Linked DNA regions of Homo sapiens: region 2 is linked to region 1. The links come from fine-mapping of genetic effects on gene expression. A gene starts in region 1. The other region holds a variant in brackets. All regions are shown on one strand. Distances are from middle to middle.

Region 1 (12,870 bases):
CAGGGGGTTCTGCGGACGCATGTGTGGAAGGGGCAGCTAGGCGGTGGGCCTGGGTTAGATGCCTGGGAGTGGTGTGTATGCTGACGGCCCACATGCCCACATGTGCAAGGTGCCTGTGACTTGCCTTGTTGTGTGTGCCCAGGTGTGGTACACGTGTGTGCTTGTGCATGCTCCACATGTATGCTGGTTGCATGTGCACTTGGGAGCATTGTCTACGTGTGAGTGTCCTGCATGTGCGTGTCGATCCTGGATGTACATTTGTTCCTGTGAAATGTTGCTTGGGAGGCCATGAGGAAGGGGTTACCTGAAGCTACAGTCCTGTGATAGGACGATCAGAGGTGTCTCAATTGCAGGGGTCTTGACAAACCTGAAGTGAACCTAGACTGCTGCCTGAAGCCCCGAGGGAGGCACGCAGACCCCTCCCCCTCCCCCTCCCCTCCCCCACCCCACAGCCCTACCACCAGGTGGTTTTCCTGGAGCACTAAGGGCCAAGCACCCTGGAATGTTTGCTTTCAGGGACTGTTCTGTTTACCTTGTACATCATCGGGGCTCAGCCGAAGACACACTTTCCTCTACTAAGCACAGTGAATAATTCACAAAGGGAAAAGCCACCCTTCTTTCTTTCTTTCTTTCTTTCTTTCTTTCTTTCTTTCTTTCTTTCTTTCTTTCTTTCTTTCTTTCTTTCTTTCTCTTTCTTTCTTTCTTTCTTTCTTTGTTTCTTTCTTCTTTCTTTCTTTCTCTTCTTCCTTTCTTTTTTTCTATCTTTCTTTCTCTTTCTCTCCTTCCTTCCTTCTTTCCTTCCTTCCTCCCTTCCTCCCTTCCCTTCCTTCCCTTTCCCTCTCTCTCTTCCTCTCCTTCTCTCTTTTTCTCTTTCTTTCTCTCTTTCTTTTTCATTCATTCTGTCTTTCACATGGCCTTCCAGTGAAGAAAAGCCACATTTCCAGCAAGGTCTGGAGATGCCAGACGCTGCTGTTCATAGCTATGTGCCGATCCCTGTCATGTGCCCAGCACTGTGGAGGCCATGGGGCCTTTGGGGCTGTCCCAGAACAACTGACAACCCCTCCTGGGGGTCAGGGGAGCAGCACAGGGAACGGCAAGCTCACCGTGCAGGAGAGGCTGTGGTCACATGCCACGCTGTGCACAGGTCTGCCACAGGGGTTGTTCACATGGGCTAGAGGGGTGTGGGCACTTTCGGGGAGGTGTCCTGGATTTACACTGAGAATTGGTGGGGGGGAATTGCCTGGCCAAAAATAAATGGGTACAGGCAGACAAGGAGGGATGGACTGCATGGTGGCTGTTCCCCATCAGGCTGGGAGACCTCACCCGATACTCCCTCCTCCTCTTTCTGTGCACCCACTTCCACTCAGGTCCACAGTCCCTTGCATGAGACCTGGGGGTGATCTCACCTTCTCTCCAGGTTGAGCCTATCACCCTCTCTGCCTCCCAGCCCCTCCCAGCCAGTTCCCTGAGTCACCCTCAGTGCACTCCTTGCCCTGGGCTCCCTTGAGGGCAAGCCTGGCTGTCCACTGCCCTCCAATGTCCCCTTGGCTTTGTGCTCTGCCCACCCTCCCCAAGTACAGCTGTGTTTGACAAGAAGGTGGTGCTGAGGAGGAGGGCCGTCCAGCCCCACGGTCCCACGGGCTGCTGAGATGTGCACCGTGTAATGCTGAGTCCCACTGCAAATGATGCCCAAGCCACAGAGGTCTGCAGGGAACCTGGCAATGCTTGTGATTTCCCTATGGCCCGCTACCCCCCGGCTCCCTGCGACTCTATGCTGCAAGAAGAGTCTCCATGCTCATCCTCAGCCCTTTTGTTCCTGATTTTACAGAAATCTGTAAGATATGATGTAAAGCTTCTAACTCCCCTAAATAAGAAACAGATAGGGGTACGAGAATGAGGACCAGACCAAAGGGACAATCTTCAGTTGCAGACAAAGGAAAAGGCAGAACAGATTCTGAAAATGAGTCTGTGGGAACGACAGCAACACAGTAGACCTGGGTTAAGATCAATAAAGGGTCTGCCGTAGGTGGAGACAGTGGGATGAAGAAGGGACAGAGGGCTGGTACAGGGGCATGGGCTGGGTGGCAGGTCGGGGTGCATCTTGGCAGGGGCTTGTGTGTATCAAGGGCCCTGGCCTGTGGATGAAGGCCTCACCCAGCGTTTGGGGCAATGCCAGAGGAGATAATACTAAGGAAGACAGCCCCTTGGAGCAGAGATCTGGGACTCTAGAGTCGCTGGGCAGGCCTTGGTGGCCCTGGTCCCAGGAGGGGAGACTTCTGAAGGGGGAGACAAAGATGCCCTCCATGCTGGTTTGTGCGTCCAGCTTTTATCTTGGAGAATTCTAACTTTGACAAAAAGTAAGTGAGTTGTAGAGTACAGATTACACTTTAAACTAGATGATGTCAATATAGACTGCAAGGATGGGGGCCCTCCTAGAGTCAGGAGACGATGGTGTTAGGTTACAATGACAGCAGTAGAAATAACAAGGACCAGCACTGATTCTTTACACACCAGGCTCTTTGCTAAGTGCTCTACTCATGGTAACGCAGCTGACCCTCATGAGGACCCCATAAGTTGCATTATTGTCCCCATTTTAAGGAAGAGAAAAAGTGCTTCCAACCTTTTCATATCAAGTGCCTGTAGAGAACATGAGCATCTGTATGAAACCCTGGATCAAACAGAAAGAGCCGCTGCTTCTGGCCAGGGGCTCTGCTCACCAGGGGCCCAGGAAATCAATTTCTCTAACTCTATTTCCCAGGGCTCCTGACATCAACTGCAGGGAAATCTCTGCCCACAGTTAAAAATGCACCCACAGCCTGCAGCCTGGGCAGCTGCCCACGCGCCCATTTGTTCATGCGCCGAGGCCGGAAATAAGCCCAGGGAGACCTAATGGTCGTGGGCGGTGCCCCTCAGAGGGTCACTCTTTTATGTCTTGTAACTTCTGCTTTTTTAGTTTGGAAATGTCCTTTTTCTTACTTAGCAGAGCATGACCTACTAATCCTGTCTGTAAAGTGCAACCCCACGTGATCTGCCAGTGCCGTGACCTCACACTGCAATTGGCCATATGCAGAGAACCAAAAACAATCACAGCGTGGCTTCGGTGAGGAAGGTGCCTGGGAGCTTTCACCCCAACTCCGATAGGGCCACTGAATGCTCACTGTGATTTCCCCATGAACATGGCACCTTGTGGGATCAATTACCTGGCAGGTGAAGATCAAAGCACCTGTGTGCCTATGCATGCAGTCACCCACCCCCCACATACACGCCTATGCATATCCACACACATGTGCACACAGTCACACACATGCACATACACAGTCAAATTCCTACACACACAAGTGCGTGCACACACATACACCCCACACTGCCTACTGCAGGAAATAGCAATAAAACCCTTACCACTTCGGAAACACCCACTTAGGTTCACTTTGGCCCTGCCCCTGAAGAGCCCAGAAGTTTTGTGAATGTGCGTTAAAAAAAATTGTTTTTAATCATCAACATTATTTTAATGTTGGGAGATAGTGAGGAGGTAGTTATGATGAGTCCTTTGCTACTCATATGTAAGATGAGACTCAGAGCTAATAATCATTGTAATGATGATAATAATAGTATCAGTAATAGTAATAATGTGACAATAGCTGTAATGTACTGGAAACCTTCTGTGTGCTAGACATTGGCCTGCATTAGCCATTATTGTTCCCATTTTACAGGTGAGGAGACTGAGGCTCAGGGAAATGAAGTGATATGACTATATGCATGAGACAAATTGTCAGGATAAGACAGGCACTCAGGATCTCACTTGTAGGACCAGCATCCCTTGTACTGCCCCTCCTTGCCCAAAAGCAACCGGACCCCACAGGAGCCACTCCCAGGCCCGTACCCACCTGGAGGGAATGGAAGCCAGCCCAGCTGGCGCCGGGTCAGAGGTAGAGCCCTGACTAATCCAGCACCGCAAATATTGACATGGCGTCCCAGGCACAAGCTAGCACCTCTTGGGACCCAGTGACCAGCTGGTGCCTCTTGGGACGACACCTCCAGACTGTCAGAGGTGGGGCACTGTTCACCCTGATCTCTGGGAATGGGGGGTGCATGGTTCTCGGGAGAAGATTCCTGCTTCCCTTGTATTCCATCTGTCACCCGGTTGCTGAGACCTTGCTGAGCCAAACATCCATCCACACTGAGCACCCTCAGCTCTGGGCCAGAAGCCACAGAACACTGTGCATAACGTGATCTCAGTGTTACCACACACAGGGTGGGGGCCTGTCCTTGTGGATAAGGTTTTGATTCGTGCCTATCACCTGCTGACAAGACCCACTCTGACTCCAGGTCCTCAGCCTCGGTGGGAGTCAGACAGCTTGGAGCCGGGGAGCGGGTACAACCAGATGCCCCGGGTCCCCACCGCAGAGCATCCCAGGCCTGTACATTATTTTCTGCCTCCAAACTGCAAAGCTTTCCACGGTAGACTGGGATGATGCACCTCAGTTGCACTGAGCGTAGCCGGCCCCTCCCCAGCACCCCTGTTTCCACTTCCTGCGGGGGCTGCTGAACCTCGGCCTCATCTATGCTCCTTCCCCTGCTCGCCCCACTCACCCCTGGTCGTTTCCACACAAAGGGGATCTGCGGCCTCTCACTGTAGAACAGGGAGGAATTGCTGGCTGGGAAGTCTGCATCCTCAAACAGGGTGCCTCTCTGCAGGCACTCCTGCCTCATTTGCTCAAAGCTCTGGCCTGAGGAGTGGGTGATCCGGGCGTCCTTGGGAACCGGGTGTGCCTGAGGCCCTGGGGCCCGGTAGAGGTAAGGCATGGCTGCTCCCTGGAAGGCTGGCTTGGGTCCGGCAGTGGATGGAAAAGAAAGTGAAGAAGCGAGCTGTGTGTGCCGGTCAAGAAGGAACAGCTCAGAGGGCCACTGGGCTGAGTGGCCCTCACCTCCACCTATTTTCTGGGCACCTCCCTGTTAGACTGAGATGGGACACGCCCTGATGGAAAACAGCAGAGAGAGCCCTCTGCCCACTCTGCACTCCTGCAGACTCAGAGGCAGCTCTGGGGCCTGGCACATTCCACTCAGAGGCGGCACCTCTGCTTAGTGCGCTCAGGGGGCCTCATGGGAGAGAGAGGATTGCTTCAGAAGGAAAAGGAGCAAGAAACCCAACTGGTCCAGGAGGTGGCTTTACGGAGAAGTGCACGGTGTGGTCTTGAGTCCCATCTCCTGCATCAGAGAATGGCAGAGTTTTGTAGTCGGAAGGGAGGTTGGTGAATGAAAGCAGGATGCATTATGTGAACACAGCTGGCACAGCTCCTGCACAGGCAATCCCATAGTGATTCAGCACTGGGGTCAGCAAACCTTTTCTGTAAAGGCCCAGACCATGAATATTTTCAGCTTTGTGGGCCACGCAAAGTCTGTGCTGCAACTACTCAACTTTGCTGTTGTAGTGACAAAGCAGCCGTAGATGTGACACAGATGAATGGGTGTGGCTGTGTTCCAATAAAACTTTATTTACAAAGGCAGGTGGGGGTTAGATTTCATCCAACCTGACCCCTGATAGAGGAGAACTCACAGAGGACATCGGCTCTTCCTCTAGGGCACATGTGCCTCTTTCATTCTCTAGACATCATATTAATAAAGTTCCTTGTTGTTATAGTCCTACAAATAGGATCTCACGTCTGAGAAAAAACAAATGTTAGAGGATGGAGGTGGTTTGATAAATGTGTTTGCCCATAGAAATGATTATACAGGCTGGGTGTGGTGGCTCACACCTGTAATCCCAGCACTTTGGGAGGCCGAGGAGGGTTGATCACCCGAGGTCAGGAGATCAAGACCAGTCTGGCCAACATCATGAAACCCTGTCTCTACTAAAAATACAAAAAATTAGCCCGGTGTGGTGGCGGATGCTTGTAATCCCAGCTACTTGGGAGGCTGAGGCAGGAGAATCCCTTGAACCTGGGAGGTGGAGGTTGCAGTGAACTGAGGTCGTGCCACTGCCCTCTAGCCTGGGTGACAGAGAGAGACTCTGTCAAAAAAAAAAAAAAAAAAAAAAGAAAAAAGAGAGAGAGAGAGAAAGAAAAGAGAGAGAGAGAAGGAAAGAAGAAAAGAAATGATAAATACTGGAGGGGATAGATAGCCTAAATACCCCAACTCGATATCACACATTCTGCACATGTAACAAAATAGCACATGTACCCCATCAATACGTACAAATATTATGTATCAATAAAAATAAGTCAATAAAAGTATTAGTCACCACGTGAAAACTCTGATGTTCTAAGCACTTTATAATGATTTCTGTGTGATTCTCTAACTAGTCAAAGTTGAGGTTTGGAGACAAGGGGTCTTGAGTTAATGGGTACAGTTAAAAGGCCATGATGTGAATTTTTATATAAGCTCACAGTTCCCAGGAGTGTGCACTCAGTCTGACACACGTTCTGTCTAGTAGATCCTGCATATGGTTTTACAGGGGAGGTCTAGACATTAGAGTTGGGGATATTTGGGTTTTACTCTGCTATGGCCTGATTGCTTGTATTCCGCACCACCCCCCCGACCCCGCCAAAATTTGTATGTTGAACCCATACCCTGCAAGGTAATGGTATTAGAAAGTGGGGCCTCTAAGGGGTGATTAGGTCAGAAGAGTGGAGCCCTCATGAATGGGATTGGTGTCATTATGAAAGATTAGGTCACAGAGGGCCCCCTCCTCCCTTCCACCATGTGAGGACACAGGAACCAGAAAGTAGACCCTCACCAGGCATGGAATCTGCCAGTGCCTTGATCTTGGACTTCCAGCTTCCAGAACTGTGAGCAACACATTTCTGTTGTTTATAAGCCACCCTGTCTGTGCTGTTTTGTTATAGAAGCCTGAATGAACTAAGACAAATTCCCAGTTTTCCCTGGGGTGATCTTGGGCGAGTTATCCATGCTGTCTGTCCCTGCTTCCAAGCTGTGAATCAGGATAATCGGTGCTGCCTGCTAGAGGCATGGCGGGTTTGTGGAAGCAAAGCCACTTGCAAAGTCTGGCACATGGAGGGGATCAGGAGCTGCTGATTCCTCCCTTTCCCCTATCCTCTCTGCACCCCCTGCCACTCCCACAGATGCTGCTGAATTTCATGGTCTCCTTCTGAGCCTGACTTGCCTCAACTTGCAAGGCATCTCTTTTGTCTCTTTGTTTGCACAATGAAGGACTTTGGAACTGGGGTCCTCTGGCTGGGACCAGAGTGCAGTTCTGGCCAGTCCAAATGATTCTTGGCTAGAGATGATGGAGCTGCCCAGGAGTGTCCCATTGCCCACTGCCCTGGCAGACGGCTCTGTTTCGAAGTGATTAAGGAGGGCAACCTAGGGAGACAGGTGTGGCAATGTGAGGGCCATCCATTTCTGGTGACACCTCGGCAGGGAAATGATTACCAGCCCAGATCTCTGGGAGCATCCCCTTCAAATGCCCCAGCAACTGAGAAAGGACCTTGAAGTAAATTTCAGCACTGACCAGAACTGTAAAGGGTTTGCTCAGCACCAGACCCACTCCCAGCTTCAGGGATTTACGTTCTCATTCTCCTCCCGATACAAACACCTCTCCAGGCTGGGGTCTTGTCCTTCCACCTGGGACTTATCTATGTATTGGAAGAACCTGCCTTTTTCTTTAGAGTCTTAGTATAGTTGCTAGGTAATTGGAGAATTGCATCATCATTGTGAGTAAAACAAACATGCCTCAGAGTAGGAAACACACCAAAAAGGTTTAACAATCCTCCAGAACCACAGCTGGAATTCCTCCTGCCCCCTAACACTCTGGGACTCTGAGAATGTCTGCGGGAGGGAGTGCATTCTCAGGATTTACAGCCTCATCATTCTTCCTGCCCAATGTCTGCCCACAGAGCCCTGGGTCCATCTTTCCTGCAGAGCTCATGGCACCGGACTTCTCCATGACTTTGTCTTAGCGTCTAATCCTGCTCCCAGCTCAGCCCAGTGCAGGGCAGGAGCACGATGCACATTTGCTGAGTAAACATTGAACCAATGCCTCAAGAAAGCAGATGGCATTCTTGGGTGTCTTCATTTAGTTTTCCAAACCTTCACTTCTCAGGATGAACAATAGTTACAGAAACTGCAGCCATGCAATCTAAGGTCTACCAGGCCTTGCACACTTCCTCACCCACACTGGGAAATGCCCTGAGTGGCTCAGAGGGAAAGGGCTCTGAGCTTGGGCAGAGAATCATGTGCACTGTTTTTAATAAGCTCTGCCAGCTTGTCGCTAGCCTAGAGATGCAATCAGCTTTGAGCCAAGCGGGGGCCATGCATCATGTTAAGTGTATTTTCTTCTCTTTAGCAGAGCAATCTGCTGAAGTGATTTCTACATGAAATGAACCTGACCTGGCATCTGGGGCCTTCCTGGCCTCTCTTTTCTGTGCTGTTCTTTCTCTGTCTCCTCCACACTCAGGCCTGTGGCGAACTCCCTTTGTTTCTCTTCTTCTTGTTCATCTTGAAGGGCAGCAGGAGGTGAACATAGTGCCTGGGTGGCTCTGGGATGCCATGGGGCAAAACCCCAAGGACAAATGCTCAGAAGCTTCACATGGGTGCAGGGAGATGACCTCTAGGACCCCACCCGGTCCAGGCCTTACAGCAGGGCCTGGGTTTTGAGGGATATGCCAAACAGCCTGGATCCTGCAGAGGGATCTCAGCCCTATGATGGGCTGAGAGTGAGCCCACCCGGCTGCGACATTTGTAGCCCCTTGGCTTGCAGTGTGGAGGATGGGGTGGGCTGGCGAGGAGGGTGGAGAGTGGAGAGGCAGGGGACCTGCACAGGTGTCCAGGTGAGAGGGGCTGAGGCTAACTCCAGATGTAACCAGAGTGAAGGCAGGAAGGGACAGATTCTTCTAGAAGTACTGTCAGGGCGTTCTGCTGGGGTGCAAGGGTGGAGGTGTAAAGGTGGCGTCCTGCCTTCAGACTTGAGCAAATGGGTGATGGTGGTGACAGAAGGAGGAGAGGCAGACTTGGAAGAAAAGTTGAACACTTTGGGTATGTTAAGAGTAAGACGACTGCGTGCAATGGCTCACACCTGTAATCCCAGCACTTTGGGAGGCTGAGACAGATGGGTCACCTGAAGTCAGGAGTTCAAGACCAGCCTGGCCAACATGGTAAAACCTTGACTCTACTAAAAATACAAAAAATGAGTCAGGCGTGGTGGGGGTGCCTGTAATCCCAGCTACTTGGGAGGCTGAGGCAGGAGAATTGCTTGAACCCGGGAGTCAGAGGCTGCAGTGAGCCGAGATCGAGCCACGGCACTCCAGCCTGGGCGAGGAGCGAGACTCCATCTCAAAAAGAAAAAGTAAAACACCCCCCTACTTGCTGAAGGGAGTGTAAATTGGTGTCTCCTTTTTGGAGAACTATTTATGAATACCTCTCAGAGCTACCAATGCACCCACTCTGATCCAGCTGTTTCCCTTCTAGAAATTTATCTTTATCCTGATGATAGAGCCGCACCCCGAAAAGTGAAAGGTATACCAGCTTGCTCATTTCATGGTGGCATTGTTTACATTAAAAAAGGTTGGAAAGCACTTAGTGCCCTCTGTTGGGGGAATGGTAAAGAAAATTATGGTCCAGCTAATCATGAAGTGGAACAGTGTACAGCCATAAAACGGAACAAGGAAACTCTGCATACACTGATGTGGGAAGGTCCCTGGGATACAGTGTTCAACTGAAAAGTCAAAGTGGCCGGGTGCAGTGGCTCACGCCTGTAATCCCAGCACTTTGGGAGGCTAAGGCAGGCGGATCATGAGGTCAGGAGTTCAAGACCAGCCTTGCCAACATAGTGAAACCCTGTCTCTATTAGAAATACAGAAAATTAGCCAGGCATAGTGGTGGGCACCTGTAATCCCAGCTACTTGGGAGGCAGAGGTAGGAGAATTGCTTGAACCCGGGAGGTGGAGGTTGCAGTGAGCCGAGATGGTGCTACTGCACTCCAGCCTGGGTGACAGTGCGAGACTCTGTCTCAAAAAGAAAAAGAAAAAAGAAAATTCAAAGTGCAGAATGGCATGTAGAGTATGCCAGCATTTGTGGAGAAAGAAGGCAAAAAATATTTATTTATATCTGCATAAAAATTTCTCGGAAACTACACAAAGATCTACTCATAATAGTGGTTCTGTTTTCTGGGGGTAGGTGGAGTAGATGGGGGTAGAGGAATGTGGGGAGACTTTTCTATATGCCTTTTATATTTTTTTAGCTTTAACCCTATAGATTTACCTGGTTGAATTTTTTAAAATTTTATTTTAGAGTCGGAGTCTTGCTCTGTCACTCAGGCTGGAGTGCAGTGACATGATCATAGCTCACTGAAGGCTTGAACTCCTGGGCTCAAGAGATCCTCCTACCTCAGCCTCCCCAGTGGCTGGGACTACAGGTGTACACCACAACACTAGCCTTAACTGTTGTCGACTTTTAAAAGCCTAGTTTGAAACTTAAAGCCCACAATGATGTTTTGGCCTAGGTGGGCTCTGCCTTCCCTCCCCCGTGTATCTCTCCTCGCAAGATGTCTGTACATTTGCAAAGGAGCTTATCTGTCCTGAGGGCCACCCCCATTTCCTAGAAGATGAGAACTAGATCTTCACCCAGACCTTGCTTCCCTATCCATCCCCTCCCAAGGTCATTGGTAAGCCTGACATCAGGTGAGGGTCTCCCTTTCTTCATCCAGGGACTTGTCCATCCCTGGAACACTCCTAGTTTCACCCCTGTCCTAGTGGGCACTCATTCATGAACCATAACAAATCTTTTCTTCAGTGGGAATGAGCCGTGCTCAGGCATCACACCATAGGGTAAGAGCCATCTCCTGAAAGGCAACAGAGCACCCAGCCCAAATCTCCCCCACACTCGCTGCTCCACAGGGTGATGCCAGTCTTTGGCCTCAGCTGTCTGACTCAAGAGATCCCAGCTTGTAGGCGCATAGGCTCGTGGACGACCTGGTGGTTCCCCTGGTTTCCCAGGGCTGCACAAGCTGCCTATAGCTTCTCTCAGCTCTGGCCTTGCTTTCTGGCTTGATTGTGGAATATAGTTTCCTCCAAGGCCTAATCTCCCTAAGTAAGCTCTAGATCACTGCCCCTATGGCCTAAGGTGACACCGTTGAAATTGTACTTCCGTCCCTGAGAAGTAGTTTCACTCCTTAAACATTCATTGTTGAAGAATGATAAATATACCTGTCTGCCTTCTGCTAACTCTCTGGGATTTCTTTCCCTGGAGTTTGACCTCAGCCCAAGACGATTTCCTTTCTCCTTCTCATCTAGGAGCTGGAGGTTGATGCTATGCACAGATCTTAGGATGACTTGAATCACAGGTGCAGCAGGATAGGAATTTACTCTCCGCAGTTTAGGGCCCAAAAAAATCCTAATTTTTGAGACAGAGTCTCCTCTGTTGCCAGGCTAGAGTGCAGTGGTGCGATCTTGGCTCACCGTAACCCACCTCCCGGGTTCAAGCTATTCTCCTGCCTCAGCCTCCCAAGTAGCTAGGACTACAGGCGTGTGCCACCACATCCAGCTAATTTTTGTATTTTTAGTAGAGATGGGGTTTCACCATGTTGGCCAGGATGGTCTTGATCTCTTGACCTCATGATCCACTCACCTCAGCCTCCCAAAGTGCTGGGATTACAGGCGTGAGCCACCGCATCTGGCCAAAAATCCTAATTAAAAAAAATATTATCTCTTCTTGCCCTCTGGAGTCCCCAGTTACCACCTCGCACCAAAACTTGTATTTAGATTTTGTTGTGTGACACTCTTATTCATTTTAAAATGGTCTCTCTTACTCTATCTCTCTTCTTCTGTCTCTGTAAACTAGCAGTTACTTCAAAGTTCAAATATCCTGTAAGGTTTGTCAGAGGTGTTTGAGCCAGAATGTCTCCAACTTGAATAGGGGTTGGGTAAAATAAGGCTGAGACCTCCTGGCTGCTTTCCCAGGAGGTTAGGCGTTCTTAGTCACAGGATGACATAGGAGGTCGGCAGGTCACAAAGATACAGGTCACAAAGAACCCACTGATAAATAAAACAAGATGCAGTAAAGAAGCTGCCAAAACCCACTAAAACCAAGATGGCGATGAAAGTGACCTCTGTTCGTCCTCACTGCTCATTATACACTAATTATAATACATTAGCATACTAAAAGACACTCCCACCTGCATCATGACAGTTTACAAATGCCATGGCAATGTCAGGAAGTCATCCTCTATAGTCTAAAAAGGAGAGGAAGCCTTGTTTCAGGGAAGCCTCTGCCCCTTTCCTGGTAAACTCATGAATAATCCACCCTTTGTTTAGCATATGACCAAGAAATAACCCTAAGTATACTCAGTTGAGCAGCCCATACTGCTGCTCTACCTACGGAGTGGCCATTCTTTCTTTACGTCTTTATAAACTTGCTTTCGATCTATAGACTCGTCCTGAATTCTTTCTTGCGTGAGGTCCAAGAACCCTCTCCTGGGGTCTGGATCAGGACCCCTTTCCAGTAACAGGTCCACTTTTCCCCAAATAAGTGATCTTCCTCCTCCTTCCTCCTTCTGATAGTGGCATCTAGGTCAGGGTGAATCTTACCAAACCTGCCACTGGAGCAGGGACCTCTGGCTCTCTGGGATCTTCTTGGTTGAGGTGTCTCTGGGAACCAGCTTCTTTCCTTACGGTATTTGCTGTGGAGGGGTCACAGCTAGCATAACTTGTGTTTCATTTTCCTATCGGGGGCAATGCACCGTAATTACCCCGGAAGCTCAGCCTGGCTCCAACATTTCCCGTTAATGATGAGCCCTCCACCTGGTTTCTCTGTGCTTGCCGAACCTCAGAAACTCATTTGCTCTTCTCAGTGGTCCCCAGCTTTGGGCTCTCAGCTCTGCAGACTCTGCCACACCATCTCATGCCCTGCTCAGGGCAA
Region 2 (16,587 bases), 110 kb before region 1:
GCGCCAGAGGTAGGCACCAAAGTGGAGTCAGTTGTCTCATTGTTGTCCCCAGGAGATCATTCATGGAGGAGGGCCAGCTCCTGGGCACAGGGATGATGGATAAGGACAGGATAGGCTGCTGAACAGAGGTACCCCCAAATAGGTGACCCCAAGTTTGTCCTAAAGGACTGTAAACTAGATAGAGTGGGGCCCAATGTCTCTTCCCACTTGATCAGTCTTCTGATGTGGTCCTGGGGCCTCCACAGCCCTTTCCGCTGCCCTGAAGGACACTGCCTATTTCTTTGAATGGTATCCTCTCCCCCATTGCCAGTAATGTTTTTCTATCTCACATAGCAACGTTTTAAGTCAGAGCATGCAAATACAGCCTCCAAATGTGGTGATCATCTTCTAGACATTTCTTGTGTATTGCAGGAACAAATAGAAATTGATTATATGATGCTGATCACAGATCTTGGTGGTTTTGAATGTGGTCAGGGGCTCAGTTCACTCACTGAAGTTCCGTGTGCATCTGACAGGTGTGGCATCTGTGTGTGTGTTTTCATCCTCATCCCTTGGCCTGAGGCCCAGATGGCCCCTTGCCTTGATGACTTAACCTGGTTCTCCTCAGGGAAGGAGGCTGCTGCCTTTGAGTATTGAAGCCGTGAAGGGACCTATCAGTCTTTAGGTTCTTGCTTCCTTGGAAATCAACAGAGCAAATATTTCTCAAGGCCCATTATATTAGAGACAAGGCATTTTAGCTTAGGGTACTTCATCCTCCCATAATCTTTACCAACTCCTTTAAAAATCCCCACGTGTGAACATATGATCTCAGTAAAAAAGCATGGAAGTATAGCTTCAACCTAGGCCCCGGCCCCTTCCCACAGCCACCCAACCCCATTTTGTGGAGAATCTGGAGCTGCTGCTGGAAGAACGCTTCTCAACCAGCAAAAGGAGAGGAGCCGGTGGAGCCCCATGTCCTGGATTCTTGTCCTGGCCATGCCAGCAGCAAGGTGCCACCCCTCTTAAGGGGTAGTTTGCCTCTCTGTGAAGTCTGGTGGCAGAACCAATGGCTCACAGAGTTTCTTTCCAACTCGCTGGTCTGGCTTGGAGCAGGCCCAGACACTGGGGCCGTGCACTTTGGGTCCAGTATTTTGGTAAGAACATTAAGGCAGGTTTGCAAATGGATGCTTTTGACAGTCTTTCACCCACGCTGCTTGATTGCCACGTTCTTCCTCCAGCAGTAGGGTTTCGGGAATGGCTTAGTTTGGGAGGGGAAAAGTTTTTATTTTAGAGGGATCACCCTGTTTGCTTCTGCTGTTTCCTGTTATCTGCAAGGAGAAAACCCCACACACCTCTGAATTGTTAGGAATGTGTTCCTCCCTGCTCCTGCCCCCAATCTTCTTGTCACTGATCTAGCAAGATCTGAGTACATGGTGAGAGTTACAGGGTTCTGCGTTCTGTGATACATTCTTGGCTCCAGATGGGCCCTAAGCAGATGACTGGGGGAGCTTTGGCAGCTGGTGCGTCTTGTTCGCGTGGACCTACTTGCCTCTTCCATCTCTCCATACGGTGGAGCTGGGCAAGAAGGGTGTTTCAATATCCCTAATCGGGGTTTCACATGTTGTGGAACGTGGATTTTTAAAGAACCCGGAGCCAGACAGCTCTGTCCCCTCTTCAACAGCTTGGCATGATCCACTGCCGTGTCCCTCCAGTGCCTTCATCTCTGCTCCTCCTACAGGAACCTGAGGACTTGCTGTTGCTCTCTTATTCCTCTTGGCCTTAGCTTCCTTTTCTGAAGCTGTTTTTGCCTCCCTATGTCTGCTGCATTGCCTGTGGCTTCTTAGTCCTTAGGCTAGAGGCGGCTATGGGTACCTATGTTTAGCAAACTGCTGAGCTGCTACACCCGCTCTGTGTCATTAGGGCTACCTGCAAAAGACCTTTCTGCAAACCTAGGGGCCTGTGTGCTGGCCAGCCTAGAGGTTTGCTTTCTAAAATAAACCAATTTATTACAAAAGTTTTTACCTGTACATTATTGTTAAAAGTTTCAAACCAGGCAGAAGGAGCATTATAAAACAGCTGGTAGAATCAATCGCTTCAGAACTTTCTTGAGCCTTACATCTTTGTTAGATTTGAGTTTGGCTGCTGTGTGGCCTCTCAATGCAGGACCAATGACACATGAAGTTTCCTCATCCCCTTTCCCTTTAGTAGACTGGCCTTTTCTTTTTGAAATCTGACATTAAAAAAATAAAATAAAAATAAAAAAAAGGAAAAAGAAAATTAGGGAGTTGCTTTCTCAGCATTTTGGACTCATTTTTTAAGGAAGGTGGATGTTTGAATTATGATTCCCACCTTGTGCCTGCTGTATCCATGGATGTTTTAGAAAGGATAGCAGGGTTTTCTGAGTCCCTCTACCTGGGGCCCTGGGCAGGAGTTGAGATGGCCCTGCTTCAATTCCAGTTCCACGGGCTGAGAGGAGAGGGCGGTCGGGCCTGTTCTGTGAGCTTCCCTTTTATGTTGTGGGTTCTCTGCCCTGAGTAGCACGTGGCCTGCTGCCCTGGGAGCTCAGGCAGCAGCTTAGGCCTCTCCTCCCCAGGCACCTCTGCCTGCTGGCTCCTGTGGGAGGGTGGCCCAGTGGCAGCCAGGGAACAGGTTTAGCAAAGAAATGAAGTGACTTGGTCACAGACCTGCGGGGAGGGAGGGCAGGAAGCATGGCGACAGGTGTGGAGTCATCTTTTAATTGATAAGAGTCACTTTTACACTCTAAGCAAGGGATTCCCATAGTACTGGAGAAAATATCTATTTCTTCTTCTTCTTCTTCTGAATAAATGAAGGAAGATGAGACCTATTTGTTTAGACTTCCTGTCATATTTTGCTCATTTCTTTAGCATTTCCTCCACCTACTCTGTATCCTGTTTCCATTACCATGCTCATGCTGAGTTTTTGTTTTGCTGTAATCTATGGAGGCTTGAGTTTCTGGATTCGTATTCATGGTGGAAAACATGCCCCATGGTTAAATCAGGACTGTTTTTCTGTCTTTGCAACTGCAGTGTTGTATTTCCAGTTATGGAAACCCCCTTATCTCAGCAGAGTTAAAAATATTACAAGTCAAAGGGAAAAGCATGGATTCCATAAATATGTAAACAATGCTTGCTGAAAATAAGCAGTTGGTAAAAAAAGAACATATTTTAATCATTCTTCCTTACTCTCCTCTTTTTGAATAGACTTAATTTTTTAGAGCAATTTTAGATTCACAGCAAAATTGAGCAGAAGGTACAAAGTTCTCATTGCCTCTCTGGCTCCCACGCTACAGTGGTGCATTTGTGACAGCTGATGAACGTACATGGACACGTCGTTACCACCCAAAGTCCATAGTTTAGGGTTCACTCTTGGGTTGTCCACTGTATGGATCTTGACAAATGAATAATGACATGTACCCATCACTATAATATCACACAGAGGAGTTTCACTGCCCTAAAAATTCTCTGTGTTCCACTTACTTATCCTTCCATCCCCCCAACCCCTGGCAACCAACGATATTTTAACTGTCTCCATGGTTTTGCCTTTTCCAGAATGTAATATGGTTGGATTCATACAGTATGCAGCCTTTTGAGATGGGCTTCTTTCACTTAGTGATACTCATTTAAGGTACTTCCATGTCTTTGTATGGCTTGGTAGCTCATTTCTTTTTCTTGCTAAATAATGTTCCATTGTCTGGATGTATCACAGTTTACTTATCCAATAACTGAAACACATCTTGGTTGCTTCTAAGTTTTGGCAATTATGAGTAAAACATCTGTGTGTAGGTTTTTTGTGTGGACGTAAGTCTTCAGTTCATCTGGGTAAATGCCAAGGAATGTGATTACCTCACTCCTGTAATATATTTATTTGTGGAGGAATAAATATAGAAATAACTATAGCAGAAGCACAGTTGTGCATGGAGCTGTGGTTGGGAGGCCCTCAGTTGGTCAACATGTCCAGGGTGCTGTCATTATCAGTGACAACAACCAGTGTTGTCACTCGGTAATTAAACCTTACAGTTGATCCACAGGACAGGCTCTGGCATCTCTGAGGGAGTGATGGGCACGACACAGCTCACCAGGAACAACGTGTTCCACCCTGGATGAACCAAGATGGCCAGGCCACCTGGCATCACTACAGGGTGACACACTCTGCAACCTATGGGACTTTCTGTCCTGCTCACATGCTCTGCTCTCTAAGCCTTATTTCTCTAGCTTATAGAATTTCTCAGTTTACATTTCTTACCTTCAAGCCAAGATGCCACAGGTGTCAACCAGAAACTCTCCTTATTTATGGATTTCAGGAAGACGATGACCATTTCTGGCATCAATACGCGTGTTGCCGTGTTCCAAGATCCTGATGCTGTTTTAGAATCACCCCAGAAAGCCCCTCACTCCCCGCCTAGCTGTTTTTCCTGGAACAGCTTGTGGAGGCCCTAAGGGAGCCCCCATGCTGGACAGCTCCCTCTGCAGGCGCTATCCATCCACACACCAGAAACACTTGCAGAATGTGATGAATATCAGGATGTTTGTTATGGTTGTAGCCTGTGGTATGCTGGAGCCGGCTCTGGGGGAGTGAGGCGAACTAGCCCTGACTTCTAGCATTTGCTGGTTGCCATGACCAGATACTCCACCATGGCCCGTTGCACGCTGTTGGCGTGACTCACGGGATGCATATCTGGGCACCGCGCTATATGGTATTTCCACCTTACACATACAATGGATGCAAACAACCTTAAGACCATGGATAATAGTAACTGTATTGAAATGATGAGTTTCTAGTGTTTATTACTTTTTTTGGGGGGGGCACACTTTAAAAAAATTCAGTTTTTACAGTAGTTTTAGGTTCCAGCAAAATTGAGCGGAAAGTACAGAGAGTTCCCACACAGACCTTTCCCAAAATGTACACACAGACGTGCATATGCACACAGCCTTTCCCACCACCAACATCCTAAACCAGAGTGGTGCACTGATTACAATCAGTGAACCTGCATTGTTTTTATCATTGTCAACCGAAGTCTCTGGTTTACACTAGGGGTCGCTCTTGGAGGTATACGCCATGATGGTATCATACAGAGGGGATCCATTGCCTTAACAGAAATCCTCTGTGTGCCACCTGCTCATGCCTCCCGCCCCCCAGGCTCTGGCAGCCACTGATCTTTTTACTGTCTCTGTAGTTTTGCCTTTTCCAGAATATCATATAGCTGGAATCATACAATATGTAGCCTTTTTAGATTGGCTTCTTCCACTTAATAATATTCATTTGAGGTTCCTCCATGTCTTTCCATGACTTTTTATTGTGGTAAAATACATACAACATAAAATTTACCGTTTTAACCACTTTTCTGTGTATAGTCCGAGGCATTTAGTACAGTCTCAATGTTGTGCAATCATCACCACCATCCATTTCCAGAACTCGTGTATTATTTAAAGTGAAACTATATCCTTTAAACAATGAAACTCTGTATATATTAAACAATAACTCCCCATTTCCTGGCCTCAGTCTCTGATAACCTCTATTCTACTTTCTGTCTCTATGATTTTGCCTACTCTAGGTACCTTATATAAGTGGAATCACATGATTTTTATCCTTGTGTCTGGCTTAGTTCACTAAGCATAATGTCTTCAAGGTTCATCCATGTTGAAGCATGTATCAGAATTTCCTTCCTTTTTAAGACTGAATAATATTCCATTGGATGGATAGACCACATTTTGTTTATGCATTCATCATCTGTCAGTGGATACCTGGTTGCTTTCATCTTTTGGCTATTGTGAATGGCACAGCTATAAACATCGGGGTATAAGGATCTCTGAGCCCCTGCTTCCAGTTCTTTCGGGTGTATACCTAGGAATGAAATTGCTAGAACAAATGGTAATTGTATGTGTAATTTTTTGAGGAACTGCCGAACCGTTTTATATAATGGCTGCATCATTTACATTCCCACCAAGAGTGCACAAGGGTTCCAGTGCCTCCACATCCTACCAATACTTGCCAGTATCTGCTTTTTGATAGTAGCCATCCTTGTGGGTGTGAAGTATATTACCTTTATTTTTAATACAATGGACTTAATTGCAAGTTTGTATAATTCACCTTTTTAATCACAGCAGTTAAACAAGATATTTAACAACAGGTTCAAGAAATTCCTCAAAATTTTACAATCAGCTCTCGTTAGTTGGTGCAGGCCTGCTCCAACACACCTCTGGTTGCAGCCTTGCAGCCTCCAAAAATAAAAGTGTCTAGGAACCACAGAGTTCTTAAGCCCTCCAGTATCCATTTTTTTTATCAACAAGTAAAGAAGTAAACGCTGGCGATATGATGCAAACATGTATTCCAGCACTATGAGCAAAAAATATATGTTATTATTTTTAATTCTGTTTCATTTAGGATTTAGGAGGTGCACACTGAATTGAATGAACATTTCCCAGAGAAGAGCAAATACTCAAGGTCTCTGGGATGTTAGGGAAAAAGATTGTTTGTGTGTGTGTTTATCCCGGAGTCCTTGGAGCTGCGTGGGGACTGGCAGAGCCTCTTACATGTAGCGCTGGCCTCTGATAATTGCCAAGTGCTCTGTGTTTCTGGTGGCTTTCTATAGCTTCCCCCCTGCTTTTTGGCTTTCTGCTCTGGGATTTGGTGACCTGGGGCATCTTTCTGTTCTGCACTCCAAAGAAGTCATTGTTTCTGGAGAGATTCAGTGCTGCCCATTTGGTATGGATGCCTCTTACGGAATTTGACTCTGAGGATAAGTCCTGGCCAACAATGAAGCCCACTCTCTTGTCGTGTGGCCTAAGTAACAGA[T/A]GTGTTTTGACACTTAGATGATTTCAGATCCTAGGCGCCAGAGAGGGGGGTGGGAAAGCCTTCCAAGCAGTCCTAGAAAAAGCATATGTGATTGGTCCAAAAGCATGTGCCTGGCCTCATTTTGGTTGCAGGCTGGTCACCATGGGAGTAGAAGAAAGGACAGCATTGTATGCGTGTGAGTGGGTGCCGCCACTTTGCAATTCTGATTCCATTTGCATCCAACAGCCCAGGGAGCCTGTTCTTGCCGCCAGTGCTTTTTTGTGGCTAGAGCGTGCAGTCCACGGCTGACATCAGAGCTTCCATCACATTTTTGTTTGGCATGTTTATTTTTGTTAAGCACTTTATTGTTTTTTATGAGCTCAGAATTACAGAAACCCAAGGAATCTGCCCCTTGACTTCATTTCTTGCTGGAGCAAACAGAAGACTATTGACTCGACACTAAGTAGGGGAGAAATCACAGTGTGACCCTTTCTCCTCCTGTGACCCCCTTGGAATTTCAGCTAATATGGGTTGCAGTCACTGGAGAGTTGACTGTCCCCAAGCTCTGGGCTAAGTCTTCGTTCCTCAGAGTGTTGTATTGAGCCACCTTCCAAAGCCAAAAGCCTTATTATTTTAATCTTTGCAGATTTCAAAGGGACTTAAGGTATATAATTAATATTTAGAATCATATCGAGTAACAGGGGAGTCCAGCTCCATCATGCCCCACCCTGGCCAGTCAGTGGTCCTGCCCTCTGCCTGCCCCGCAGGTGTTCATGCACTTCCTCTTTCCATTTGGGTGGCCAGTGGCCTGTCTGATTCTGGATGGAAGGAGCACCTTTGCCAGTTGATTTCCATTTACCTTTTTCGAAAGATCCAAAGCTGGATCTCTACTCTACCCTGTGGATGGCCGGTTCTTCCTCCTGGAACTAAGAGCTGTGAAGAGCCGGTGAAGTCTTAGGGGGTGTGTGAGTGTGGGGTGTGGAGGCTGGGGAGGAAAATCAACCTGTGAAAATATCCAGGCTTGTGCAGAGATCATTTATTCACGAAGAGTTAATGAATGATTAACTAGAATAAATGATACTTACATTCCATCAGCCTCTTTTATTTTTCCCATGTGAAAACAAAGCCCTTCTTGGTTTGATTGCTTCTAAACGGAACTCAGAGGGTTCTGAGGATTTTAGGGACTTTGGTTATTTAGCTCAACTGTACCCCTAGCATGCACACAGAGACGTGGACAAGGAGCCCCCTAGAGCTGAAGGCTGGCCCTCTGCCTCTGCTAGGAGACATCTAATCACAAAGCCTTGGTAACTCACATTCCTCCAGGCATCCATTTCCATTTTTGGAGGAATGAAGTTTGTGCATTGGGAAGTGACTTGAGTTTAACTGAAATTCCAAACAAAAAGGCAGTGGTTCCTCTCATTTTTAAAGGTTTTGCTTGACAGCCATGAGGCACTGCATACCAATCAGTTCAGAAGTCAGGATCATAAGCAAATACCATTACAGGACAGTGACTGTAACACTCTGAGGATGGGGGTCATCTTACTGTGCACATGGTCATTAGTTGCACACACTATGTGGTTCTCAGAACTGACTGTTTGATACACTTTAATGCAGCTTAACCCAGTTTGTAGGGCTTTTCCCTCACTTTTGTAATTCTTAATATTTATACCTAGTATCTTTGTTAGTGGTGTTTTTTTTCCTGATATAAATATATTTAGTCCTTTTATATGCTGTCCTGGGAAAATAAAGACCTGGATTCTGGCCTTTTGACAGTCTCCTCTCTGGGTTTTCCTTGCTCTTTATCCCCAGCATATGTGAAGTATTTGTGCCACAAATGTACCAGCCTCTACTGCACAGAGCCAAGGCACACAGCACAGCCATCAGGACACAGAACCAGATCTCTACCCTGTTGATGGCTGGCTCTTCCTCCTGGGGCCAAGAGCTGTGAAGAGCCTGTGCCCCCACATTGGGAAGTCTTGGGGGAGTGTGAGTGTTGGGAGCGGGTGATTGTGGGGGAAAATCAACCTGTGAAAGGATCCGGGCTTGTGCAGAGTTTGTTTATTCACATATTCTCAAAGAGTGAGTAAGCGTCCGCTACGGGCAGTCGCTGAGTCTTCCGGGCACTTGGGATAGAGAAGCGGACAAAGGCCCTGCTGTGTTGCCCCTGTCATCTAGGGTTGGCCGTGCTTGGGCTGTGCTGGGGAGTCATCACACACTTCCTTCCCTGTCCCCGCTTCTTGGGAATAGGCCTTCAGCTGCCCAGACCCTGGCATGCCTTCGTTATTTGAGTTCAAAGACTGACCTCCCACTGGCTGTTCATGTTAGGAGGCGTCTGCACAGAGAACGCACACTCGGGGTCTGGAAGGCTGAATGTGTACACTTATGTGTTGGTGAGGCACTCCCCCTGCGTGGGCCCTGGCATTTGCCCCCAGTGTCTGAGGCTAAGCTAGGGTGGCGGAGGCTCTGTCAAAAGCTGAAAGAAGAGGGTCTGTGGGCAGAACTGGTTTGCCCTGTAGAGGAGAGGGAAGCCAGACCCTTGACTTAGGGGCGCAGAGTCGGTGTACCTATGGGTGGGAAGAAGACAGTTATCCAGGGATACTTACGGAAGGACATAAATCACCTGGAGTTTTGGGGAGATATGGATATGATCTCCGTTTAAAATATTTTATCCCATTTTAGCCTGTATCACCCAATGTGTCCTGATTTTTTGTTCTGAAAATATGCTCCCAGTAGAAGCAGTCAGACATGGTGCACACCTGTAGTCCCAGCTGCTCTGGACACCCAAGGCAGGAGCATCCCTTGAGCCCAGGAGTTTGCGTCCAGCCTGGCCAACATACTGGGACCCCATCTCTTAAAACAAACCAACAAACAAACAAAAGTTACCCAATCGAAGCTGGACACAGATGAGACATTTGCTAGCACAGGAATAACTGCGGGTAGAGGGTGGGATATAAGGAAAGGTGGCTTCCCCAAGTCATTTGTGCAGGCCAGTGAACAAAACATACTGGATCCAAGGTCAAATTCGTAGTGATTGTTCTATAGGGCTCTTTCTGTCCTGTTCTGTTTGGTGGGGGTGGGGAGTGATTTCAGAGTTCTTGTTATAATTAGTCACATGGATTACATTGGCGTTTTTCTTCATTGATTCTGCTGATCCATGCCCTCGAGCTCTCTGGTAGGCCTGTTGGGGAGGAGGGGAGCTCCTGTATTGGCATTGACTGGCAGATTATGGCTTGGCGTTCTTTTCCCAGATTACCTCATTTAATCCTTACAACAGCCCTGCAAGGGAAGTATCATTTTGCTTTTACAAATGAGAAAACTGAGGCTCAAAAAGGCTGAGTCATCTTCCCATGGCCACACAGCTAATCATTGTTCAGGGCTGAGTCTGTGCCTGATTCTGCTGAGACCATCAAGCCCTCATCCACTCCTACTCATCTCATCTGTCTGAGTCCATTGGGGGGCCTCACCGGCATTCCCTGTTGTCTGTTTGGCTGGGGAGGGGAGTGTCTGGCAGCCTCAGCGGGAAAGATGAGGGAGCAATCTGATCAAGACGGTCAGCGCATTATATTGAGAGTGTCAAAGCATCAGGCTTGTTTAGAGCCAGGAGTTGGGATTATTCCTAAGTTTTGGTTCCCCCACGGTCCTGGGTGGATATTTGCATGGGGTATGTCTGGGTTTGAATTTCAGACTTATTCTCGATTTTTTATTTCAGGATCTAACTTGGCAAGATGAGCACTCTGCCCCTTTCTCCTGGGAAACAAAGGTAAGTTGGATTAAATTTAGATCTATTTGTTCTTTTAAAAAGAACTGAGTAGTTGTATATTTTTCTTTCAGCATTTGATGGACTCAGAAGACAGCCCCCTGACTGCCAGGCTGCAGGGGATGTGTCCATTGTTGGTAGAAAAGGAGGGGATGGGAGGAGCATGGTGAGGAATTAGGAAACTATTGTGTGTGGTTTGGTGATAGTGAGTTCAAAGTAGTAGTGCTTTCTGCCAGGGTCCAATGACGCCCCATGATGCCCATTGTCTAGGACTCCCGGCCAGCTTGGTTAAGGGGGCCAGCCCTCTTGGGGGCCCTGTCTCTGCTCATACCTCTGGTTCCCAGCACTTAGCACCTTGATGGGAGATGCCCCATAAGACAAAGCTTTGAGCAAATGGGAGGTGACGAGCTGATTGATAGACATAGACATCCATTTAGCTAATTCATCCCAACGTGGATCACTAATTCTGTCTCCCAGTCATTCTTCTTCTCATCATTATCATCATCATCACCAGAGTTGCTTAAGAGCATCAAGCTTCACTGATTTTAATTCATTTTCCCCATCTCCTAAGTTGCCCCAGTAGAAGTACATTCATAAGCAAAATGACTAAAAGACAGGTGTCTTTAACCCAAGGGACAGAAATAAAAGACCAAGATTTTCTGAATTCTGGAACATTTGGTGATGTGTGTTGGAGGGTTCTTTACGTCATGAGAGTGTGTTACAGACAGAGACGGTGGTGAGCCTGGAATAGGGCTCGGACTGCTGGGCAGATCAGGGTTTTTAAATACTGATACCTCAAGGCACTTGTTTTTTGGTTTTTCACTTGTCCACATCATTGCTGATCAGAGCCCTCATCCCAGCAGGAGACCTATGAGGAGGGTGGGCCAGAGTGGTTCATGAAGGACCCTGAGAGGCCCTCATGTTGGCGACTGTGTCTTAAAATGAAATATTGCCCAAGGGTTCAGATGGACACAAGGACAGCTGACACTGTTCTTGGCACACAGACAGTATTTAGTAAGCTATTGCCGATTGCCCTGGGTGAAGTGAGCTGGCCTCAGGGCGTGGGAGCGTGGGACAATTGAGATGAGTGTTAGAGTTAAGAGGTGGTTTTGGGGAAGGCATGGCATTAATGTAGTCTCCCTAGGGATCGGGTACGGGTTGCAGGGGTGACCAGCACTGTCTTGGGAGAGAGCACAAGATGTTAAGGAGCCGCCTGCAATTGGAATAGCTTCTAAATCCAACACTGGATCCTGTGTCTACTGACATTGCAAAGGAAGTCATAAGTGGGTAAAAAGTGCATCATTACATTGATTCTTAGCCAGGGCCCTCAATATTCCTCTTCTATGGGCTCCCAAAATGGGTAATTGTGAGAAGTACTAATCCTATAGATGATATCTAGTGGTAATAGCCAGATAGATTCTCTGTGTGTTGGAAATGAGCAGCCTTGGGTATGGTGACCCAGAAAGCAGTGCAGATTTTCCTGGACTGGGTCTATATTTGAAGATATCATAGTGATAAAGGCAAAGGAAAGTAAAAAATAGTTAAAGTGTCCTAAGACCTAAGCTCATCATGTTCCCCACGAGAACATCTGTTCTCTTAAGAATTTAGCTTGTTAAATGTTCCTGAATCAGCTATTTGTGGGACAGGACATTTCATCTTTTATTAACTTGGCATAAATGACATTCTGGGACAAGGTGGTGCAGCTCCTGGAGTGGCCACTGATACAAGCACAGCTGCTGGGGCCAGAGTGGGAAACAGGTGCCTGGCGAAGATCTCGAGAAAAAAGAGAGCAAGTACAGTCCACTTGAATCACACTTGTGCTGAGAGGCTCATTGTCCACAGATGCCAGCATATCTGGTCCCTTAGGAACCAGTGTAAGTTGAGGAAGCTTGCTAAAATCTGGTTAATATGTGTCACCCATCAGAAATTGCATCCTTTTAGTAAAGTGTAGTCTTCATAGCTCAGAGTTGGCAGTTTCATTTCATACTCCTGTTAGATTAGAGTTCCAGTTTGTTTCACAAACTGTTGGGCTCACTCTGTGTCCTCACCTTCCTGTTTGATCTCTCGAGGTCAGACTTACTATAGTTTACTATTAGAAACGTCTAGGGGCAAAATAGAGCGTATCTCAGAGAGCAAGGGAGCTGTCCCTTCCTCCTTCTTCACTAGGCAGTGCCGAGTTTTAAAAAGCCCATCACTCATTCCTCCTTTGTCTTAACCCTGGAGTGCCCTGCCATCCTGCTTGAAGAGATTTGCCAAACTCTTCTTAGGACTTAAAGGCTTATAAGATCTTCATTGGAGAGCCACAAACAGGAGGTGGCTTTAGTGAAGGTAGGACCCCCTAATCTCCAATTGCAGGACTGGAGGGAGACTTGGACCCCATTTCTTGTTACCTCTCAACTGATGCCTTCCTCACTCTATCAGTTCTCTATAGATGCATAACAAACTTAATGGCTTGAAGCAGCATTTTATGTGCTCATGATTGTGTGGGTCAATGATCGGAGCAGGGCTCAGCTGGACTGTTCTTCCGTTGGCCTTGCCTGGGATCACTTATGTGTCATCTGATCGCCTGATGGGAGCTGGGTGCTCTGAGAACCTTGCTCACGTGTCTGGTTGGTGCTGGCTGTTAGCTGGGCCACATGTCTCCAGCAAGCCAGCCTGGACTTCTTCACACAGAGGTGGAGAGATCCGTGTGCGGGAACGGAAGCCTACGAGGACTCTTTTGAAGCTTAGGCTGGGCAATTGCATAGTATCACTTCTGCTCTGTTCTGCTGGTCAAATCAAGGCACAAGCTGGGCCAGATTCAATGTTTGAGGAAAGAGATTGCACCTCTTGATAGAAGAGCTGCAGAGAGTTTGCACCCATTTTAAATCTAAGATTGTATGATGTCATTCATTCCTTGGTTAACCTTGGCCATTTCTTTCCATTTTTAATTAATCACTCATTGATTTTTTTAAGTTTTATTTTTAATTGTGGCAAAATACACACAACATAAAATTTTCCATCTTAATCATGTTTATGTGTATAGTCTGGTGGCATTCAGTACATTCACATTTTTGTGTAAACATCACCATCATCCATCTCGAGAACTCTTTTTAAAAATTATTACTTTTTAATTGACAAATGAAAAATTGTGTATATTTATGATGTACAACAAGATGTTTTGATACGTGTGTACATTGTGGAATGATTAAGTCAAGCTAATCCACACCTCCAGAACTCATCTTGCAAGACTGAAACTCTGTTCCCATTAAAGAATGACTGCCCCCCACTCTCACTAGCCCATGGCAGCCACCATCTATTTTCTGTCTCTGAAATCATTCATTGATTTTTTTTTTCCAGTAGATATTTATTGTATACCCCGTTTATGTCAGACATTATGCTGCAGGCCCAGAGTTGAGCATATGCCACTTCTGTGCTCGAACAACAGCTCAGTGAGTGGACAGCTGTGTTTGGTGGCAAATCTCACTCAGCACAAAAGCTATAGCCACCGAGTCACTCCAGTCATTTTCTCCATACGTTTAACCCAAATTTGTACACATGTTGGGTAGATGTAACCTCATGCCCTTCTTCAGCTATTCAGTTCAACAGACATTTAGTGGATGCCAGCAGAGTGCCCAGCTCTGACTTCTCCATCCCCTGACGAATCTACCTACACAAGGGTAAGCCTGACCCAAGGTCATGGCCATGGGCAGAGTTAAGAATCGCAGGGATTTTTGGTTTCTCACCCAACTGCTGCACCTCTGTATGGGTTCCTTTCTCTTGGCCAGCCCATGACCATTCCACCTCCACAGAATGAGCTGCGGTTGTGCTTGGGACCTGTGGTCGCTGCCCCCATGCAACGCAGCTTTGATCAGGAGAGCTCGCTGCAGCCTCACAGTAGCAGCTGTGCACCCACCTGGTTTTCCAGCCTGTCCACCCTGCCTCGGTTGCCTCCTCTGAGGCTGATCGTGGCTGTGGTGCCTCTGTTACCCAGACTTCTTCCATCACAGAAGGGAGGCCTGCCTGTCCCAGAAGGGTGGGGGTGGTCGTGATTGTCATCTTTTCCACTCATCTATCAGCTTGGCAGGCGTGCCAGGGGAGAGGGGGCCAGTGGGGACCTAATGTTGCATTCCTGTCTCATGCTACTGCTGTTTCGAGAGGAAAAAACTCAGCACTTAGAAGGCTCCAGACAGGAGGAGGCAGGGAGTGGAGAGAGGATTCTTTACATTCCCCAGGCGGTCTGGGCTGGAGAATTCAGAGGAGAAAATGCCTTTGGGGCAGGTCAGGCCCTGCTTCAAAGTTGGCTGGGCTCTTGGGACCCCATCCCCAGCCTTGGTTGGCTGGGCTCTTGGTTGGCTGGGCGTTGTGACCCTGTCCCCAGCCTTGCCCCTCCCCCAAGCTGTCTGGCTGCTTCTCCTTTCTGGCTACCCCCTTCCTTCACCTGATGTCCAGCTGCCTATTAGGGCAGTAAGTAGGTTGGGCTGGGGATCGGTTCCTTGATTTCATGGGTATCAAAAGATCTTGGGGGGCTAATATAGATCATTCCCAGAGTAGGGAAGCCTTCCAGACGCCTCCTTGGGAAGATACATAAGCATTTATGAGCACAGGCCCTTCCTCTGTGCTGTGCCCATGATAGGGATGTGTGTGTACTCTGAATTCTTTCACCCTTGGGAGGCTGGTGTCCCTGTTCACGCTGTGGGTCAGGACACCGGGATGCAGGGGGTCAGGTGCCTGGCAGGTCGAGTGGGCGGAGAGCAATTGGAGCTCAGGTCTATCTGTGACTTTCGGGGCTTTGCTGCCCATGGTGGGACAGAAGGGCTGTTCCAGCAGGATGTTCCTGGACATAGAGGATTCATTGGCTCTGCTCAATGGTTCCTCCTCACTACCAGTCACGGGGCTTCTGAGAGGCAGGACACCATGGGGCTGCATCCACCCACCCGCAACTTGGTCTCTGTGCTTCTCACCGAGACCCCCATCTCTGCCCAGCAGTCCCCTCCCTCCCTCCTGCCCTTCCTCTGGGCTGTGCCTCACCCCTTCCTGAGACAACAGCAGACCCCTGTGTGCCCCTGCTCTTGGCCTTTCCCTGCTCTCCATGTGTGTGGGACGATGCGTCACTCGCTCAGCCCTGCCCTCAGCCCTGCACTGCCATCCCACAGGCTCTGTTCTCACCCACCTCAGGGACCATGTTCTCTTGGACCTCAGTGTTTTGCTCCGTCCCCTGACCCCTATCCACCTGAGAAGGCCCCACTTGCCCTCCAGACTCAGCACAAATCCTCTTTTAACAGTTGTCCCAATCAGGAATCTCACCACGTGCCGGGTCTGTGCTGAGCACCCTCCCTGCATTGCAGAGTGTAATCCTCACAGCAACCCACCTTACAGATGAGGAAACTATGGCATAAAGTGAAGATGTGAACCAGGCAGTCCTAAGCCCAGTGCTGGGCTCTTAAGCCCTATGCAGCTTCCAGAGTTACCCTCTTCCCTGTTACCGTTAGGAAGCACTGTGATAGAGGAAAAATGGGGATCATGCTGATGAATTCCTTGTTGGTGCGTCTTTGTCCCTGTGAGATGATGAGCCCAGAATGGCAGACACAATTATTTGTCCCTTAACCTTGACAACCCTGGGGACTGGTGCACCTCTGCACCCATTTCCTGTTGGGCCTCAGCTGAGTTCTCCCTGGCTGGTGTTTTTTGCCTTAGAGGCTGACGGGGTGGATGTTTGTTTGCTTACGTTCACGCCCCGTCTCTTTGGGCCCCTGGGTTTGTCCCTGTCAGCTGCCACTTCTACTAAATTTGTGATTCTAAAGGTTTTTAGTATCCTCCTGCTCATCTTCCTCCTCTTCCCTCTTTGGAGGGGAGGTGGGAAGAATAGATGTTAAGTGGTTGGTGAATGTATTAGGATTTGCTCCAGTAAATGATGATCTTTTCTGACAAGGCTTCTGTAGCCTTTGTCTCAACAATTTAGATCTGTCCGAGGCTGCCAAGCCAAACAGTTAGTTTTGGCAGCCTGCACTCGTCTTTTACTGAAATATTACACATTCCTCTTCAGTGAGTGGGACGTTAAAAATAGACACTGGGCTCGG

Evidence for each region. PIP is the estimated chance that this variant, and not a neighbour inherited with it, causes the effect. A credible set is the group of variants that fine-mapping cannot tell apart.
Region 2: its variant is the best candidate, but not a certain one, in a credible set for the expression of CAPN9 in tibial nerve (GTEx, PIP 0.76).

What each region holds. Positions count from the first base shown.
Region 1 is chr1:230,739,430-230,752,299 of GRCh38, reverse strand. It overlaps CAPN9 (calpain 9), which reads right to left and starts at 4,912. Exons shown (of 20, transcript NM_006615.3): 1 at 4,591-4,912. The coding sequence starts at 4,803. It also overlaps a transcript of AGT not described here. RefSeq lists an enhancer at 1-1,607.
Region 2 is chr1:230,849,612-230,866,198 of GRCh38, reverse strand. It overlaps C1orf198 (chromosome 1 open reading frame 198), which reads left to right. Exons shown (of 4, transcript NM_032800.3): 2 at 10,481-10,531. Among named protein-coding and RNA genes, the nearest start is that of C1orf198, 11 kb to the left of the region's middle. RefSeq lists enhancers at 9,758-10,957, 13,964-16,587. The variant T/A (reference allele first, on the strand shown) is at 6,793.